4 separate regions of the Homo sapiens genome follow, and all the other regions are reported to be linked to region 1. Evidence: microRNA targets listed by miRTarBase, many of them from high-throughput screens and not tested one by one. Region 1 holds a microRNA gene; each other region holds the end of a gene's coding sequence.

The links. Region 1 holds the annotated microRNA hsa-miR-4768-3p (CCAGGAGAUCCAGAGAGAAU, at 1,121-1,140, opposite strand). A microRNA usually pairs through its seed, bases 2 to 8, with sites in the 3' UTR of a target mRNA and lowers its output. Matches are read on the target gene's strand: a 7mer-m8 pairs with bases 2 to 8, a 7mer-A1 pairs with bases 2 to 7 and ends in A, and an 8mer does both.
Region 2: the mRNA of ULBP3 is a reported target of hsa-miR-4768-3p. Seed matches in the 3' UTR shown: 7mer-m8 at 1,847-1,853 and 8mer at 1,964-1,971.
Region 3: miRTarBase lists MROH1 as a target of hsa-miR-4768-3p. Seed matches in the 3' UTR shown: 7mer-A1 at 737-743.
Region 4: the mRNA of MMP17 is a reported target of hsa-miR-4768-3p. The part of its 3' UTR that is shown has no 7-base or 8-base seed match.

What each region holds. Positions count from the first base shown.
Region 1 is chrX:17,423,003-17,427,066 of GRCh38, reverse strand. It overlaps MIR4768 (microRNA 4768), which reads right to left and starts at 1,186; the gene lies at 1,113-1,186. All of the region lies in intron 1 of NHS (NHS actin remodeling regulator), which reads right to left.
Region 2 is chr6:150,060,796-150,064,859 of GRCh38, reverse strand. ULBP3 (UL16 binding protein 3) reads left to right here. Exons shown (of 5, transcript NM_024518.3): 4 at 147-275; 5 at 1,509-3,807. The coding sequence ends at 253. Among named protein-coding and RNA genes, the nearest start is that of ULBP3, 6.3 kb to the left of the region's middle.
Region 3 is chr8:144,261,071-144,265,134 of GRCh38, forward strand. MROH1 (maestro heat like repeat family member 1) reads left to right here. Exons shown (of 44, transcript NM_032450.3): 42 at 44-146; 43 at 214-279; 44 at 585-856. The coding sequence ends at 670. It overlaps BOP1 (BOP1 ribosomal biogenesis factor), which reads right to left. Exons shown (of 16, transcript NM_015201.5): 4 at 3,847-4,001; 5 at 3,644-3,761; 6 at 3,445-3,546; 7 at 3,155-3,367; 8 at 2,911-3,072; 9 at 2,761-2,841; 10 at 2,622-2,691; 11 at 2,408-2,540; 12 at 2,151-2,331; 13 at 1,783-2,071; 14 at 1,518-1,602; 15 at 1,326-1,433; 16 at 975-1,247. The coding sequence ends at 1,094. It overlaps MIR7112 (microRNA 7112), which reads right to left and starts at 1,667; the gene lies at 1,603-1,667.
Region 4 is chr12:131,850,820-131,854,883 of GRCh38, reverse strand. MMP17 (matrix metallopeptidase 17) reads right to left here. Exons shown (of 10, transcript NM_016155.7): 10 at 3,113-3,959. The coding sequence ends at 3,610. Among named protein-coding and RNA genes, the nearest start is that of MMP17, 24 kb to the right of the region's middle. RefSeq lists an enhancer at 3,268-3,437.

The DNA.
Region 1 (4,064 bases):
TTCTGTCAGCAGGTCAGCCAGGCCGAGCATGCCAAGTGATCTGGGGTTATAGACAGCAGATTAATCTCAAAGCTGGAACTTCTTTAAGACCAGGAAGTAGCCCCTTTTCTGATTAAAAGACAAGTCAATAATTCTGGGTCCTTGGTCCACCACTGTGATATGTCCCTTGCAAAACAGGCACTCTCAGGCAGTCTTCCCTGCAGAGCAACCATGATGGATACTGACTACTGACTTGAAAGTGCTTTGACACCCCCAGATGGAAGGAACTAATCAATTATGCTTCTCACTTAGAGGCACCCTGCTCATTCATGCTGAAGATAGAAGTCCAGATAAAAGTAGAATTACTGGGAGTCCAAGATCCAGAAAGAAAATGAGAGAGCTCAGCTGGTCACTGTGAATGATGTGCATGTGCCCCAAGCCTTTGAAACACATGACATTTTCCAGCAGCCAAGCACTCATCAAATTGCAGAATGTCGAAGCTACAAGGAAACTTAGCAATTATTTAATGATCTAAATTACTTTTATTATAGTGAAGAGGAAGCTGAGGCCTAGAGAGGTAAAATAACCTGTCATATAGCTGAGCAGCGAAAGGAACAGACTCATTACCCTAGTGATCTCCTGTCACACAACCCATCTCATGAAGCTCTCTCTCAGGTCGAGTTTAATAGATGAGAGAACAAGGGGTAGTCTGCCTATGCAAAGCAGGTACACACAATGAGATCAGAGCAAAGGGGATTTCCTCCCCTGAAGCTAAACAGCCCCCATAAGTGATGTTACGTGTTAGGATAATTTCCTTGGTGTGCTGGAAGATGTTTCACAAGCATGGGTGGTGGGGACCCTTATTTGCCATATTTGCCAATTTCTATAGTGTAAATACTCTCATCATGGCAGATTTCAAGCTACCAACTTGATGCCACTGAACAGCAGTTGGGGAGAGATATGTGCAATCAGCTCTTGTGAGCTGATAGAAGCTGGATCCTCCACACCACTGGAATTTCTGAGAAGTCTACATCACGGGTTTAGGAATGAAATAACTTTCTGGCCCACAAGAATAAAACACCCAGGTTTATGAGGAAAATCCTAGCAGCACACACTCTAGGTTTCACTCACTGAAACTCTGATTCTCTCTGGATCTCCTGGACATCACAGTTCCCATATCCATGGGATCCAGAGAGAATCAAAGTTTGGAGAAGTTACTTGGTCCATCATGTCTGTATCTCTGGGTAGTATCCTACCTAATTGATCCAAGGCAGGAGCACTGAGAGGTGGAATCCACATTCCCTATCTTAATGCTTTTGGCAACCAAGCATTCCTTTCCCAGCAGTAACAGGATCCAGTTTCCAAGGTGATATGTGAGCTCAGAGCCCCATCTTTACCAACGTCAAAGGCAGTGCTTGGATTCAGCTTCAGGTAGGCCTCCTCTGTTCATGTAAGCAGGAAGGAAAACATGTAAAACTGAATTCCTCCTCAATTTCTTTCTTTCTTTCTTTCTTTCTTTTTTTTTTTTTTTTTTTTTTTTTTTTTTTTTTTTTTTTTTTTTTTTTGGCTGAGAAGAGTTCCAAGGCTGGGGCAGCAACTCATCAGGAAAAGTTCTTAGCCTGTGCTTTCTTTTTGCCAAACATTGATTTGCTAATAGAGAAAATAACTGGTGTATAAACAAAAGTGGTTGATGACATCCAAGGGTCTGGAGCAATTCCTCCACATCGTTCTGACAGCTAACAAATGGAACTAGCTCTTAGGGAGCATGTTTAAGGAACAGCTGGAATATGTAACGGACATTTTTCTGTGAATTTGACAGGTCAAGCTCCATCACGGTTGAGCTACGCTCACCGGACGTGGATCAGAATGAACTCTGCCATTCCTCAGAAGGTTGCCAAGAGGGCTTTGAAGAGAAGGGAATCCAAGGAACTCAGTTTCAGACATGGAGAAGAATAAAGACCAGACAAATCATGAGCAAACCTGATTTAAAGAGAAAGATCTATAAATACCAGTTGCTCAGCTTTCTCCCTGGTTTCCTGACCCTATGATGAGCTCCACCAAAATTAAGTAAGTATAGCCCTTTCCAGAGGGTCACTTGGAGGGAAGATCCTGCCATATGTCGCCTATTGGTCTTTAGCCTCACCACCACCCCAACATCTGATAAAGTCAACAGACGTGAGTTCCTAAAGGATACAGAATATACAAGATACTTTCCCTTATACAAGGATTCACTCTAAGCATCGTTAAAATGGCAAACTCACCTGGGACCCCTAAGATAACCTGATTTACCAAAATCTGGTTTATCCTTAGCATATGAGGAGCACATCCATTCTCTAAAGCAAGGAGATTTTCAAGATCAATGAGCAGAGAAACTTCTCAAAAGAATTTTATAGAATTTTTTAAGATAACAAGCAAACTAACAAATGATTGAGTAAACCTGGTACTATTCCTTTTCTTCTTCCAAACTCAAGGGAGTTATTCCAAACAATAACATACCTAGAAAAGAACCTGTGAAGATTGCAAGATTATCTAAAGAAGCCACCGGGGCAAGAGCGGTGGACATGCTTCTCCACACGGCCCTGCACCCAGACCACTCATTGTGAACTCCACCCAAATGCATAAACCTTTGGGAAGCAAAGGATGAATTGATTAGCTGCAATCTGTAGGCCCAATCAATCCATCTCCACACTGTAGGGACCTGCACAGAATCTCTCCTTAAAGTCTAGTCTTTCATGAGGAGAAATTCACCTCATAAAAGACATGATCAGAAGACATGACAGCCTGGAGGAGCAAACTACTGCTAGGTCAGTGGAAGTTCTCCTCCTGTTTGTGAAAGTGAGGAGAAAAGCACAGAGCATTTGTCCCTCAGCTTGTCTCCCTTGCAGTCTTCTCACTTATTATAATTCAAAAATTACCTCCATTTCAAGGAATCCTTCTCCTTCAGAGCTTTCAGCTCAAGGTGGCCTGGTTTGATCTCTCCTGACACCACTTCCTCCCTCCACCCCAAAGTAGATTAGGATCACCTTGGATAACCACCAGAACTTGATGATTAAAACATTCAGAGCAAAAAGATCTTCAGAGGTCATGCCAACTGATAAGCCAAGTTAGTAGCAAGGCATAAAATAAGGCATTACTGTCTTTGTTCTGTGCTGATCCATGCATTGTCCTACCTACCATGCCAGCACTTTGGTCTGTGAAATATGCAGAAAAGGCAAGAGAAACACAACTGCTGACAAGAGGATGAGGAAAGGAAGAGCACTTCCAGCAGGCATTCGCTGCCTTGCCTTAATACTTAGCACTTCCACAAGCCTTTTCATCTTCAAAGCACTTGAGGAACACTAGCTAATTAATCCTCCCAACATCCCTGCAAGGTGAGGAAGGATTATCTCCATTTTACAGATGGAGAAATGGAATATTTTGAACACAGGCATAAAACCCAGTGACAGATAGAATTGCCAGAAACTGGGCTGGGATCCTTCCTGGTGTCTTTGATGCCCACTCAAGCCTGCCAAGGTATCTCATCCCCAACCTGAGGACTGCCAAAAGCTCCTAACCAGGATCTAGCCGAGCAGACAGAGGGCCAGAGGCAAGACAGACAAGGCTCTCATGCTAACCCTTCCAAGTCTCTAATTAATTCATTATCTCACTGGACTGTCTGGTTAGGGGAGGCCTCTTTTGAAGCTTAGATGGAGGAGGAGGAGATGCCTGCTCAAGTCTTCTTCTAAGCAATGATTCGATATTCCTCTCTTATATCTTCACCCTGGTTGATATTTTAAACCATTGATGAAGACAGCACATGCAATGATAGAAATCCACATTAAATCCTTCCTGGAACCAAGGCAGGTTCTAAACAAATACATGAAAAGCCATTGGCACAGTGCTTTTATTATTCAAGTTTTCTCATATTTTGAGACAGGACTTTCTCTTAATCAAACATCAGCTGCAAATGCCAGTTGGAACCCTGATCAAAACCTCCTAATTAAATGCAGTGTAGGAATTTCATGTCTATCCCAGGCCTATTACTCAAGGCATGGTTCCAAACTGTGGTGGTCTTAGAATTTCTTGGATTTTTCAAAACGTCTAAA
Region 2 (4,064 bases), not on the chromosome of region 1:
CCCAGGACCTGTCACAGCGGCTGCCCCACAGCAGGGGAGACAAATCCTCTGCCTTCCCGGATGACCTGGGGTAGCAGGAGCTAAGGAGCCATCTCCTCAGATTTGGAGCGTGGACAAGAGTTGTCACTTTTGTGTTTCCCTTTCAGCACCACCCACCATGGCCCCAGGCTTAGCTCAACCCAAAGCCATAGCCACCACCCTCAGTCCCTGGAGCTTCCTCATCATCCTCTGCTTCATCCTCCCTGGCATCTGAGAAGAGTCATTTAGAGTGACAGGTACTGTGGGCAAAACTGTGAGGGGAACGAGAGACAGATGGGTGAGGTGGGAGGAAGGGAAAGGAGAATTTCCAGAGTCCCACCTCTCCCCATGGCCGGGACCTTCTCGTTCTGACATGAGACAGGTGAATGAGACCTGGTGTCGCCTGTTTGCAATGACCTGGGCAGCTCAACCTTGAGTTCTGATGGATTCTCACCATCAGGGCCAGAGGGAAAGGGAGGGACCCATATCAAGGCTCAGGGCCGGTTGAGTTCAAGAGGGTTTAGACAGTTCAGGCCTATTTCACAGCAGGTTTCTATCTGGGAAGGGTAGTGGTGTGTGGCCTGCAGGCAGCAGGAACTCAGGCATGGGCAGTCTGCACAGTAGGAGAGGAGTAGCATGGCCACTTCACCAAGGATGTCAAGGGAAGGGGTGTCCCTGGAGGAGGCTAAGAAGAGAGAAACCTGGGGGAATCCCAGGACGAGGGGGCTGTGAGGGCCTTGGCCCACCCAGTTCCTAAGGCTGCATTCCCAGAGAGAGCACCTTGAGTCCCAGCAGTTAAGGTGGAAGGTGAAGAGTAGAGCGTGTCCAGGATGAGGTTTAGGAAATGGCCGAGCCCCTTGGACCCATGGGATTCCTGGCTAGGCCCTGGGACGATGCCACTGCCATTCTGCCTCGTGCACACTCCAGATCCTGAGCCAGCTGATGGCCCTGCCTGGAGCAGAGTGGACTCAGCTAGGGCAGCTGAGCTGCTGCTAGAGGTCCGTGGTCACCACTGAGCTTGGCCAGGAATGAATGGGGCAGGGCAGGGACAGTCCCATTCAGAGCTATGGGTGCAGCTCCCAGGGTGAGGAGAGGCTGAGAGCGAAGGAGAAAGAAGGTTTGCCTACAAACCCACCCAAGGCCAGGGAACATGGATCCAGAGACCTCTCTTTGGACAGGGCTCCCCCAGGTCCTCTAGACCCTTCTATGAAAGGGAGGAGCAGGCCCTGAGTGAGGGTGCAGACCCCTCATTACCAGCCTCAGGTCTGAGCCCCTATGGGCTGTAACAGGACCTGGGCTGCCTCTGTGGTGTGGTGAAGGAGGGTGGAGGTTGGGAAAGGCTGCACAGCCAGGGGTAGGGTTGGAGGGAAAAACATGTTCCTTATCTGGGGGAGAAGCTCTGAAATGGGGAGGGCCTGGGAAGGATCACCCAGGAGAACAGACCCAGGTTTTTCTCAGCCACTTAAACCAATGCTTCATCTTTCCTCAAGGTGGAAGGTGATATCAAGAAGCCTCTGTTAGCCTGGTCTGGTTCCTGCTCTCCCTTCAGGGAGGCCGCCTGTCTACTCACCACTGTGCCTTTCTGGAAAGCAGGAGTTCAAGCCTTAGCAAGCCCAGAGGCCCCCAGCAGATGATGAGGACATTGTCGGCTCAACATCTCAGGCCACTCATTACCTTCGCTCATGATCCCAGCAGCCATTTTTCTTTTTTTTTTTTTGTTTTTTTTTTTTTTTGAGACGGAGTCTCGCTCTGTCGCCCAGGCCGGACTGCGGACTGCAGTGGCGCAATCTCGGCTCACTGCAAGCTCCGCTTCCCGGGTTCACGCCATTCTCCTGCCTCAGCCTCCCGAGTAGCTGGGACTACAGGCACCCGCCACCGCGCCCGGCTAATTTTTTGTATTTTTAGTAGAGACAGGGTTTCACCTTGTTAGCCAGGATGGTCTCGATCTCCTGACCTCATGATCCACCTGCCTCGGCCTCCCAGAGTGCTGGGATTACAGGCGTGAGCCACCGCGCCCGGCCAGCCATTTTTCTTAACACCTTCTGCCACTTTCTCTCGGTGCTAATGGATGGAATTCCTGCACAAGTTTTAACTGAACAAGAAATCCCAGCAAAAGGCATTTTCTTTCTACTTCTTTGATTGTGGAAAAGCAGACATTTCTCTGAAGCATGACCTTATTCTTCGAAACGGTATTGCTAGTAAAATAGCATGCAGGACTTCAGACCTCAGGGATCCTTTCCATGCACTGACCAAGAATTGTATTAATCCTTTTTATCATTATAGTTTTTTTACATTTTCTCATTCTGTCAACCATATTGGAGTGAAGTGGCATAGTCATCACTCACTGTAATCTCCAACTCCTGGGCTCAAGTGATCCTCTAGACTCAGCCTCTAGAGTAGCTGGGACTACAGGCGCATGCCACCATGCCTGGCAAATTGTTTTATATTTAGGTAGAGATTGGGTCTTCCTATGTTGCGCAGGTAATAAAACTGTGAAAATCCTGGAATATAAGCTAAGAAATACCAATGTGGACATAGGGCCTGGCAAAGATTTCATGAAGAAGACACTAAAAACAATTGTAACAAAAACAAAAATTGACAAATGGGACCTCATTAAACTAAAGAGCTTCTGCACAGAAAAAGAAACTAGCAACACGGTAAACAGACAGCGTGTAGAATGGGGAAACTATTTGCAAACTCTGCATCTGACAAAGGTCCAATATCCAGAATCTACAAAGTACTTAAACAATTAGACAAGCAAGAAAAAAAAACCCAATTAAAAAATGTGCAAAGACATGAACAGACACTTTTCAAAAGAAGACATACAAGTGGCCAACAAACGTGAAAAAATGCTCAATATCACTAATCATCAGATAAGTGCAAATCAAAACTGCAATGAGTTACCATCTCTTACCAGTCACAAAGTTGGAGATGGTGGTGAGGCTGCAGAGGAAAAGAAACAGACACTGTTGGTGGGAAAGCAAACTTGTTCAGCCGCTATGGAAAGCAGTTTGGAGATTTCTCCAAGAACTTAAAATAGAACTACCATTCAAGCCTGCAATCCCACTACTCGGGATATATCCACAGGAAAAGAATTCATTTTATCCAAAAGACACCTGCACCAATATGTTCATTACAGTGCTATTCTTACTAGCAAGGACACAGAATCAACCTAAGTGCCCAGCAACACTGAATTGAATGAAAAAAATGTGGTACATAAACACCATGGAAATCTATGCAGCCACCAAACACAGCAAAATCATGTCCTTTTCAGCAACATGGATGGAACTAGAGGCTATTATCCTAAGCAACCTAATGCAAGAACAGAAAACTACATACTGCATGTTCCCATTGGAAAGTGGCAGCTACACATTGAATTCACATGAACCAGAGGCACTGGAGATTACTAGACAGGTGAGACAGGAGGGGCACCTGGGCTGAAAAACCACCTGTTGGGTACCATGCTTACTGTTTGAGTGATGAGATCATTGGGACACCAAGCCTCAGCCTTCCAAAATCTACCCATGTAACAAACCTGTATGTGTACCCTTTAATCTATAATAAAGGTTAAAATTAAAGATTCGTAAGTAAAATAAAATGACATAGAGCCCTCCAAAAAATGGGGTTAACTGAGTGGAACGAGAGAACTTTGCACTATGAACGCTAACCCAGATCAAAAACTAAACTCTAGTCATTTAAAATAATCGTAAGTTGTATATGATGATAATTGTATAAAAGTTATACGTGAAAGTGCCAAACCCTAAAATTAAACACTGCATAATGAAATTATACAAGATTTCCATTTCCATCTTGTTCTTTATACCCTTACTTTTTTTTTTTTTTTTTTTTTTTTTTGCCAGTTTCAAGTGACATTTTTTTTGTTTATCCTCAGGAAATCCTTGCTGTCAGCCTTCTCCTTCTACACCCACCCCCTCCTTTTCCACCGTCCACATCAGCTCTTCCTCTGGTCTGGGACTGTGGCATTCTTGGCACTGAAGGCACAAGAGCTGCATTCAGCCTCAGGAGAGAGGAGGACACAGGGCAGG
Region 3 (4,064 bases), not on the chromosome of region 1:
GGGTGGGGCGGGGCCAGGCGGCACTGACCAGGCCTCTCCCCAGATGCACCATTTCCCAGACCTGCTGGGCCGTCTCCTGACCACCTGCCTGTTCTACTTCAAGAGCAGCTGGGAGAACGTCCGAGCTGCTGCACCCCTGTTCACCGGTAAGCACCACCCCCTGCCCCACCCCCACGCCGCCCGGCAGCCCCGCCTGATGCCCCCACTTCACAGGGTTCCTGGTGCTGCACTCGGAGCCCAGGCAGCAGCCGCAGGTGGACCTGGACCAGCTCATTGCGGGTGAGCACCCCTCCACGGGGCCCCTCCGCTGGGCCCTGCTGACCCTGTAGGCACCCGCAGGGACTAAGTGATTTTCCTGGATTTCAGGACTTTTTCCCTGTCACTGGTGACCTCATCGTCTCTAGTAATTCACGGAAACTTCTTAACTGTTCCAAAAGAGCTTAAAAAACACTAAAAAAGGAAAAACGATCTTTCCGTTGGCTCCTGAGCCTCCCAGCAGAGGCTGTCAGGAGAGCGTGGCCCACGCGCAGGCATGGGCATGCCGAGGTCACAGCCCGCAGGCAGCCCCCCTCCTCTACCCCCAGCGCTCCAGATCCTGCTGAAGGACCCGGCCCCCGAGGTGCGGACGAGGGCTGCTGAGGCCCTGGGCCGCCTGGTGAAGCTCGCCTAAGGCTCCGGCCAGCACCCCCAGCGAGGAGTATGCACCCAGACCTGTGCCTGAGCTCCAAGACAGGGCCTCCTGAGGACCACAGCCTGGGCACACGACTGGAGGGGCCTGGCCCCAGAACAGGCACTGCTGGGGACCAAACCCAAGCCCTTCAGTGAGGGATGTGCCCAATAAACTCATCTGCTCCCAGCGAGTGACTGACAGGGTGCGATGCTGAGCCTCTTAGGGGATGGGCCAGAGGGTGCCCTGGACTGGCTGTGTTGTCCCCACTGTTTTTGCAAAATTGAGTGAGGGGAAGGCTCGGCGCTGTGGTGGGGGCGGCTTTGTTGGCAACCCCAATTCAAGAAGGTGGGAGCACCAGGCAGCACAGGGTAAAGGCTCTGTTGACTTCAGCACGACCACCCCAGCCCCAGGCAGGCAGAACAGCTAGGTGAAGAGGCGGACAGTCCCGTCTGCCCCCGAGGAGAAGACCCACGGCTGGGTGGGGTGGAAGATGACGTCCAGCACTCCCAGATCTCGGGTCAGCACGTGTCCCTTCAGCACCTTGACGGGCACCAGCAAGGGGTTCTGCAGAAGGTCACTGTGGGGACGAGGAGGGCTCAGGGCACGGCCAGACACCACTGCCCTGGGGAGGGGGCCAGGCAGGGTCAGCACTCACTTGTACACCATGCCATGGCAGACGATGACACTGCCGTCGTCCGAGCCTGACGCAAAGAGTGGGTACCGCGGGTGGAAGGCCACAGCCCGCAGAGCCTTCTTGTGGTGTCTGGGGGGAGGGAACCAGGTTGAAGGCAGGCTCGGGCTGAAGGGAGGGGCTCTGCTGGCCGCCTCCACCCCCAGCTTTCCTCACCTCAGCATCCTGTATGGCTTGGTGGAAAGATCCAGGTCAAACCACACCAGCTTGCTATCGTAGCTCCCACAGATGACGTTGTCACCTAGGGCCAAAGGCTGTGATGCAGGTGTTCCCGCTCTCACCTGCAGGGTGCACTGCCCTGCCCGTCACCTACACCCCTCACCTGCAGGGTGCACTGCCCCTACCCCCACCCCTCACCTGCAGGGTACACCGCCCCCCCCCCCACCCCTCACCTGCAGGGTGCACCGCCCCCACCCCTCACCTGCAGGGTGCACCGCCAGGCTGGACACCCACTTGCAGTTGGGCATCAGCTTCTTGGTGAGCTCCTGGCGCAGCAGGTGGTAGAGGCGGACGCTGCGCTGGGACGCCACCAACAGGAAGGGCCGGGCAGGGTGGAAGGCCACTCGCTGCACCTGTCCGTGGCTGCGGCGGAACGGACTCTGGCTGCGGCGACGGCTCAGCTGGTGAATCAGCACCTGGGTGTGGCCTTGGGTGGCCAGCACCACGGCCAGGTAGTCCCCACGCCCGTGCCAGGTCACCTGCGTCACTGGCTGCAGGAGAGCAAGGCTGGCTGAGTGGCTGAGCCGGGCCCCTCCCGCTGCAGCCTCACCCCCAAGGCGCCCCACGTACCTTCCCGTGGCAGATGCGCAGCCGCAGGCCCACTTGGCGCTCCTCCTCTGAGGCCTCCAGCCAGCGGGCCGGCTGCAAGGGGGGCTCCTCAGGCGGGACGAAGGCGCTCAACAGCTGATCTGTGCTGCCCGCCACCAGCCGGTCCCCCAGAGCTGGGTTCAGCAGCAGCACCGAGTCCTCCCTGTGAGCCAGGCCCAGACACGGCCCCTAAGCACAGTGCCACCCCTGGCTCCCCAGCCCCCAGGGCCTCCACTTACACGGCTGCAGCCACCAGGCAGACAGCGGGGCTGGGGTTCCAGGCCACACTCTTCACCACGCCCCCCACGGGAACAGTCCTCACACAGCGGGCAGTGGCCACCTCCCAGAGCCGCAGGGAGCCGTCGTCAGAGCCTGGATGCGGCAGAGACAGCTCTCAACACCTGGCCATCCCACCTGCCCCCCAGCTCAAGGCTGCCCCCAGCTCGGACCCACCTGAAACCAGCCACTGGCCCCCAGGAGAGACACTGAGGCACCGGACAAGGTCACTGTGGCCCCTGTAGACCTGAGGAGGCGGCGGCAGTGAGGAGTCAGACTGGGAGGGTGCAACCCCAGCCCCCTAGTCTCCACTTACCAGGGCCTGGCACGTGGGGAAGGGCTGCAGGTCCCTCGGCCGAGGCAGCTTGGGGATGAGGTCCTCAGGGTCTACATTCACCTGGGGCAGGAGAGCGCCAGGTCAGCCTTGCCCCCTGTGCCACCCCCCTGGTGTGCCACCCCCACACACCCTCATCTTGCGCTGCCGTGGGCACAGGTACAGGTCAAGGCAGCGCTCGAAGCGTTCCTGGATGAAGCGTCCGTAGGCAGGCACGGCCCGCAGGCTCGGGAACTTGCGTGGCAAAAAGCTCAGCTTCCTCTCGCCTGGCTCCTGCTGTTCCCACGCCAAGCGCTGTGGAGACCAAGACACAGGGGTGGGGAGGGTCACAGGGAAGCATGGGGACAGGGTCCCGGCCCCCAGGATGCAGGCCCACCTCCTCCTCGCTGAGCAGGTATTCAGGGGGTGGGTTGTACGACTCGGCGTGGCCTGGCAGGGCCAGCTTGGGAGCAGGTACGTGCATCTTGTGGCGCCCGAGCACGGCGTTGGGGTCCTCCTGGGCCCACAGGTCATAGAAGCTGGGGGTGGGGTCTCGGGGCCGGCGAGGCTGGATCCAGCCCATCTTGATGGCGTGCACCATGCGAGAGACCTGCATAGACAGCCGGGTCAGGACGGGCAGTGCGGGGCGGTCAGCCCAGGCCAAGCCCCAGGGGCTGTGTGCCCCACCTTCTCCTTCTCCACCAGGGAGGGGATGAAGCTGCGCTTGTCGGCCGGGCGGTTGGTCACCGGGTGGATCATGACGTCCCCGCTGAAGAAGTCGACAGCCGGCTGGGGGAGAAGATGTGGGCGTGTGGGCCAGAGTGGCTGAGGCCCTGCTGGTGCCTCCAGGACCCCCGCCGCCCAGGGGCCAGCCCCTGCCACCTACCTCATAGGGGTTGAAGCCCACATCCCCAAACTGGCCACTCTGCAGCCGCCGCACCAGGGCCACCTGCTCATCCGTCAGTCTCAGGTCCCGCCCTGTCATCGGGTCCTGCACGGTGCGCCTGGAGACCGCCAGTCAGACCCCGCCAGCCCTGCCCCACCCCTCGGGCCCACCCCGGCTGCTGGCCCCACCCCACCAGCCCTCACCAGTAGTCAGGATCGTCCATCTTGTCCAGGAACTGGTCCAGCTCATCCCGGGTCCGCAGGGGCTTGTAGATGCGCCTGCCATCCAGGTCGTAGCCCACGTGGGGGAAGTCATCGTACCACTCCAAGGGCACGTTGCCCACCGTGTTCCGGATGTCCTGCAGCCGGGGGCCACCATGTCGGCATCTGATCCTACAAGGCCCACCCCCGCTTCGGGCCGC
Region 4 (4,064 bases), not on the chromosome of region 1:
GCAAGCTGAGCTAAGACACCGTGCCTCAGTTTCCCTCCCTGTAACACGGCAGCTGGAGAGGGTGTGTCCTGGCCTCAGAGGTCACCCATGTGGAAGCCGCATGGTCTACAGCAGCCTGTCACGGCAAGCTGAGCTAAGACACCGTGCCTCAGTTTCCCTTCCTGTATCATGGGAGCTGGAGAGGGTGTGTCCTGGCCTCGGAGGTCTCCCATGCAGAGGCGTTGTATAGCACCCATGGGGCTGTGTGTTTTTGGTCAAAAGCCTGGGTCACGCTAAGGGCAGCCAGTGCCTTGGCCCGGCCGTGTGGCTCAAGAGAGACCCTGGGCCTCCAGGCTGACCTCCCTGGGGTGGAAGGAAGAAGGGAAGAGGTCCTTGCCCCTCACTGGGGTGGCGTGGGTCCTCTGACCTCCTTCGGAGGGTTTTGACTGTGGCTGTGGGCTGGCGATGCCCTGCCTCCTGGGCCTGGGGGCACAGCTTCTCCAAGTTGGGCCAGCACAGCCTGAGGTATAAGCAGTGACTCTGAAAATCCAGAACGTCACGTGAAGTCTCCAGGTGTTTAGATGGTGACTCAGGCGAAGATGGAAAACTGCCTGCTGAAGACACAGAACCGAGGTCCCATCACGAGGAAGGTGCAGGCGGACAGGCCGGGGGCATGGACCACAGAAGGACGGGCCGGCAGCCCTCATAGGTGCGAGGTCACAGGGGTCGGGGAAGGCCCGGGAGCTGTGCCGGGCCAAAGAAGGCTGCCCTGGGTGAGGTCTGTCCCTGCAGCATCCTCTGATCTGAGATCCACTGGCTGCGTGTCTTTCCCAACTCTGACCTTGGGAGGACACCTGCGTTCCAGGAGACACAGAAGCGAGCTCAGGGTGGTCAGCGCCTCCCAAAGGATGCAGAGGACTCTCATGCTGCGGGTGCAGCTTTCTATGAACATGAGATCCTTTCCACAAAACAACACGCCCTGCCCGCGTGTTCCTCATCCGAGACGCGCAGGACCAGAAAAGTGTTTTGGAGCTCAGATTGTTTGGAGTTTGGACACTATATTTGCATTATACTTACAGGTTGAGCATTTTTCTCTGCTTTTCTTTTTTCAAATACTGCCACTTGGCCAGGTGTGTTGGCTCATGCCTGTAATCCTAGCCTCACCTCAGGGAGGCTGAGGCGGGTGGATCACCTGAGGTCAGGAGTTCGAGACCAGCCTGACCAACATGCTGAAACCCTGTCTTTACTAAAAATACAAAAATTAGCCAGGCGTGGTGGTGCCTGCCTGTAATCCCAGCTACTCGGGAGGCTGAGGCAGGAGAATCACTTGAATCTGGGTGGCGGAGGTTGCAGTGAGCTGAGATCTCACCACTGCACTCCAGCCTGGGCGACAGGCTCTGTCTCAAAAAAAAAAAAAAAAAAAAAAAAAGTGAAATCCCAAATGTTCTGTGTGCACCCCGAGCCCATCAGTGCTCAAAAGGTCTTGGGTTTTGGGGATTTCCGACTTTGAATGTGGGGTCAGGGTAGCCTCAGCTGCATGTGCATATCAAAAGGTGGGGGCTCATGAAATGCGTCATGGGCTGGCGGGGCTCCAGGCCCTGCCCCAGGACCCAGCACGGCCACCCCACTGCCAGAGGGAGGTGGGCTGCAGCATGGAGAGGCAAGTTCAGAGCAGCCCCCCTGCCCCGCCTACGGTTCACCTCTTCACCAGAGATAGGACCGGCAGAAGAGGCTTATGACGGAGAGTTTGGACTTCAAAACCGCAGTGAGCCCTGCCAACGTGAGAGCCCGACTCAGCAGACAAGGCCCACAGCCGGCTTTGCACTGGGGCACGACCCAGGACGTGGGGACCACGGGGCTGGGCCAGCTGCACGGGGGAATTCACCCCACAGGCTGCTGGGCAACAAAGCGTGATGAGGAAACACCACTTGGTGCAGGGCAGAGCCAGTGTCCCCGACAGACAGGAGGGAGGTCGGTCTTTCCACAGACTGGTCTGACAGGCAGGGACTCCTCCTGCTCCAGGGAGCAGATGGTGAACAGGCGGGGGACAGAGGACACGGCTGGACTCCATGAGGATGTGGCCTCTCTTCACGGGGAGGTGGCCCGGCTCCATGAGGCCTGGCCTGGGGCCTGCCTGCCCGGCCCTGGCAGCCTCATCCTGGGATGGGTGCCATCCCTGGGATGGGACAAGGGGGCTGTGGGCTTTGGCTCCTGGGTGCCAGGAAGCCTCATCTGCACCCTGGGTGGCCCCAGCCGCTCCCTATGCTGGGCCTGTGGTCAGGAACTTCCTGCTATGTGGGAGTGAATCCCCCACAGTCCAACGGCCACCTCCTCATCCTCACTGAGTCACGTTTGAGGGGGCACCCGGGCCCTCCACAGCCCAGGGCAGATGCTGGTGAGCCAGAGCCTGAGGCCCCGAACCTGTGGCCCGGGGTGCGTCTGTGCCGCAGAGACCAGAGGACTGTGCACCAGCGGGAGGACTGGGCCCTGCAGAGTGGCATCGGCTGCACCCTCTGAACAAGAGGGTACTGCAGGACAGACGCGTCACTCGCCGGCCAGAGTGGGGGCAGGCTGAGGGACTCCGCTGTGGATCTGGAGGCTGGGAGCAAAGGGAGCAAGTGACAGAGTGGCTGGAGCTAGAATCAGCCCCTTGCAGGGAGCACCCTCCCTCCCTCTTGCGCAGGGAGCACCTACCCTCCCTCTTGGGCGCACCCAGGTCCCGGTGCTCGGCCGGGCATCATGGTCTAGTGCTGCGGGGCAGACAGCGTCCCAAGTGGCTCACCCAACAACTGATGCCTTTCCTCGGGCACCTCCCACACTCAGATCTCACTGGGCCAGCTGGCGCCCCGCCCGCCCGTGATGCCCCTGCCTGTAGCACTGAGGCTCATCCCCCGCTGGGCCTCAACTCTCCCATCTGTGACAGGGGCGTGGGGACTCCTCGGGGCACGAGGACTGGAAGAGACAGCGCGGGACGGGCTGATGAACAAGGAGGAATGCGACTGCCGAGACCTCCTGGGAAGCCCCCACCCCAAGTGCAGGTGCGTGGGCCCCTGGTCAGGGTCAAGCCCCTTGAGGCCCGAGGGTACCCACTCCCATGGCCCTGGAGCACCAGGGAGCCCAGCCGAGCCGCTAGAAAGCAGGGAGAGGTCATGTTGGTCTGGAACGCGTCACAGGGGGGACGTGCCGCGGCACCATGTGGGGGGCTCGTCTGTGGGGAGGGCTGCCCCACTGGGGACCTGGGGACGGAGGCCCTGTGGGCCGGCGGGAGCACCAGGCAGCAGTGTGGGTGGGGTTGGTGGCGCCGGCACAGAGAGGGGTGGGCCCCCAGCCCGAGATGCTCCCTCCAGGGCCGGAGGAGGCTGGCGGCGGTGCGGCCTGACTGGGCACCCTTCTGGAGCGGCCACCCCTCGGCTCGTCAGTCAACACAGTCCCTCACTAGGGGACAGCTCCGTCCTTGCCACCTGAGCCTGCCCAGCCCTGGCGGACAGTGCCCTCTGCTGGCCTTCCGGTGCCAGGGTGGCCCGTCCTCATCCCGCGCCAGCACCTCCCCCAGGGACTCCGGCACAGTCCTTGCCCTCTGTGGCCAGGCTGTCCCACCGCCTCTGTCCTCTCATGGGCTCGCGCTGTGTGTCATAGCGTCAGGGCCTGGGCCGCTGTCCACAGGGCGCCTGGTGACAGTGGCGGCAGCAGCAGCAGCATGGTGGCAGCCACCAGTGGGCCTGGGGCCCCCGGGGGAGAGGATGCCCCAGAGGTGCATGAGCAGACCTCGTAACCGTCCTCCGAGCGGCTCTGGTCATGTTGTCCTGGAGGGGCGCGGGGCCCCTCTGCCGCGTCCACGCCCGCAGCCACAGATCCATCGGCCTGTGAGTCTCCACACACCAGCCAGTCCCGGGCCGTGGACTGTGGGTACCCGGGTGCCACCTCCAGCTCGCCATCCAGCACTTTCCAGTACTCCTGGCCACGGAAGAAGTAGGAGGCACCTGAGAAGAGGAGGGAGAGCTGAGCTCAGGGGAGGGCTGCAGCAGGAGGGGCTCGAGCCGGACAGCGAGGAGGGAGCGTTGGGCTCAGGGAGGGCTGCAGCGGAA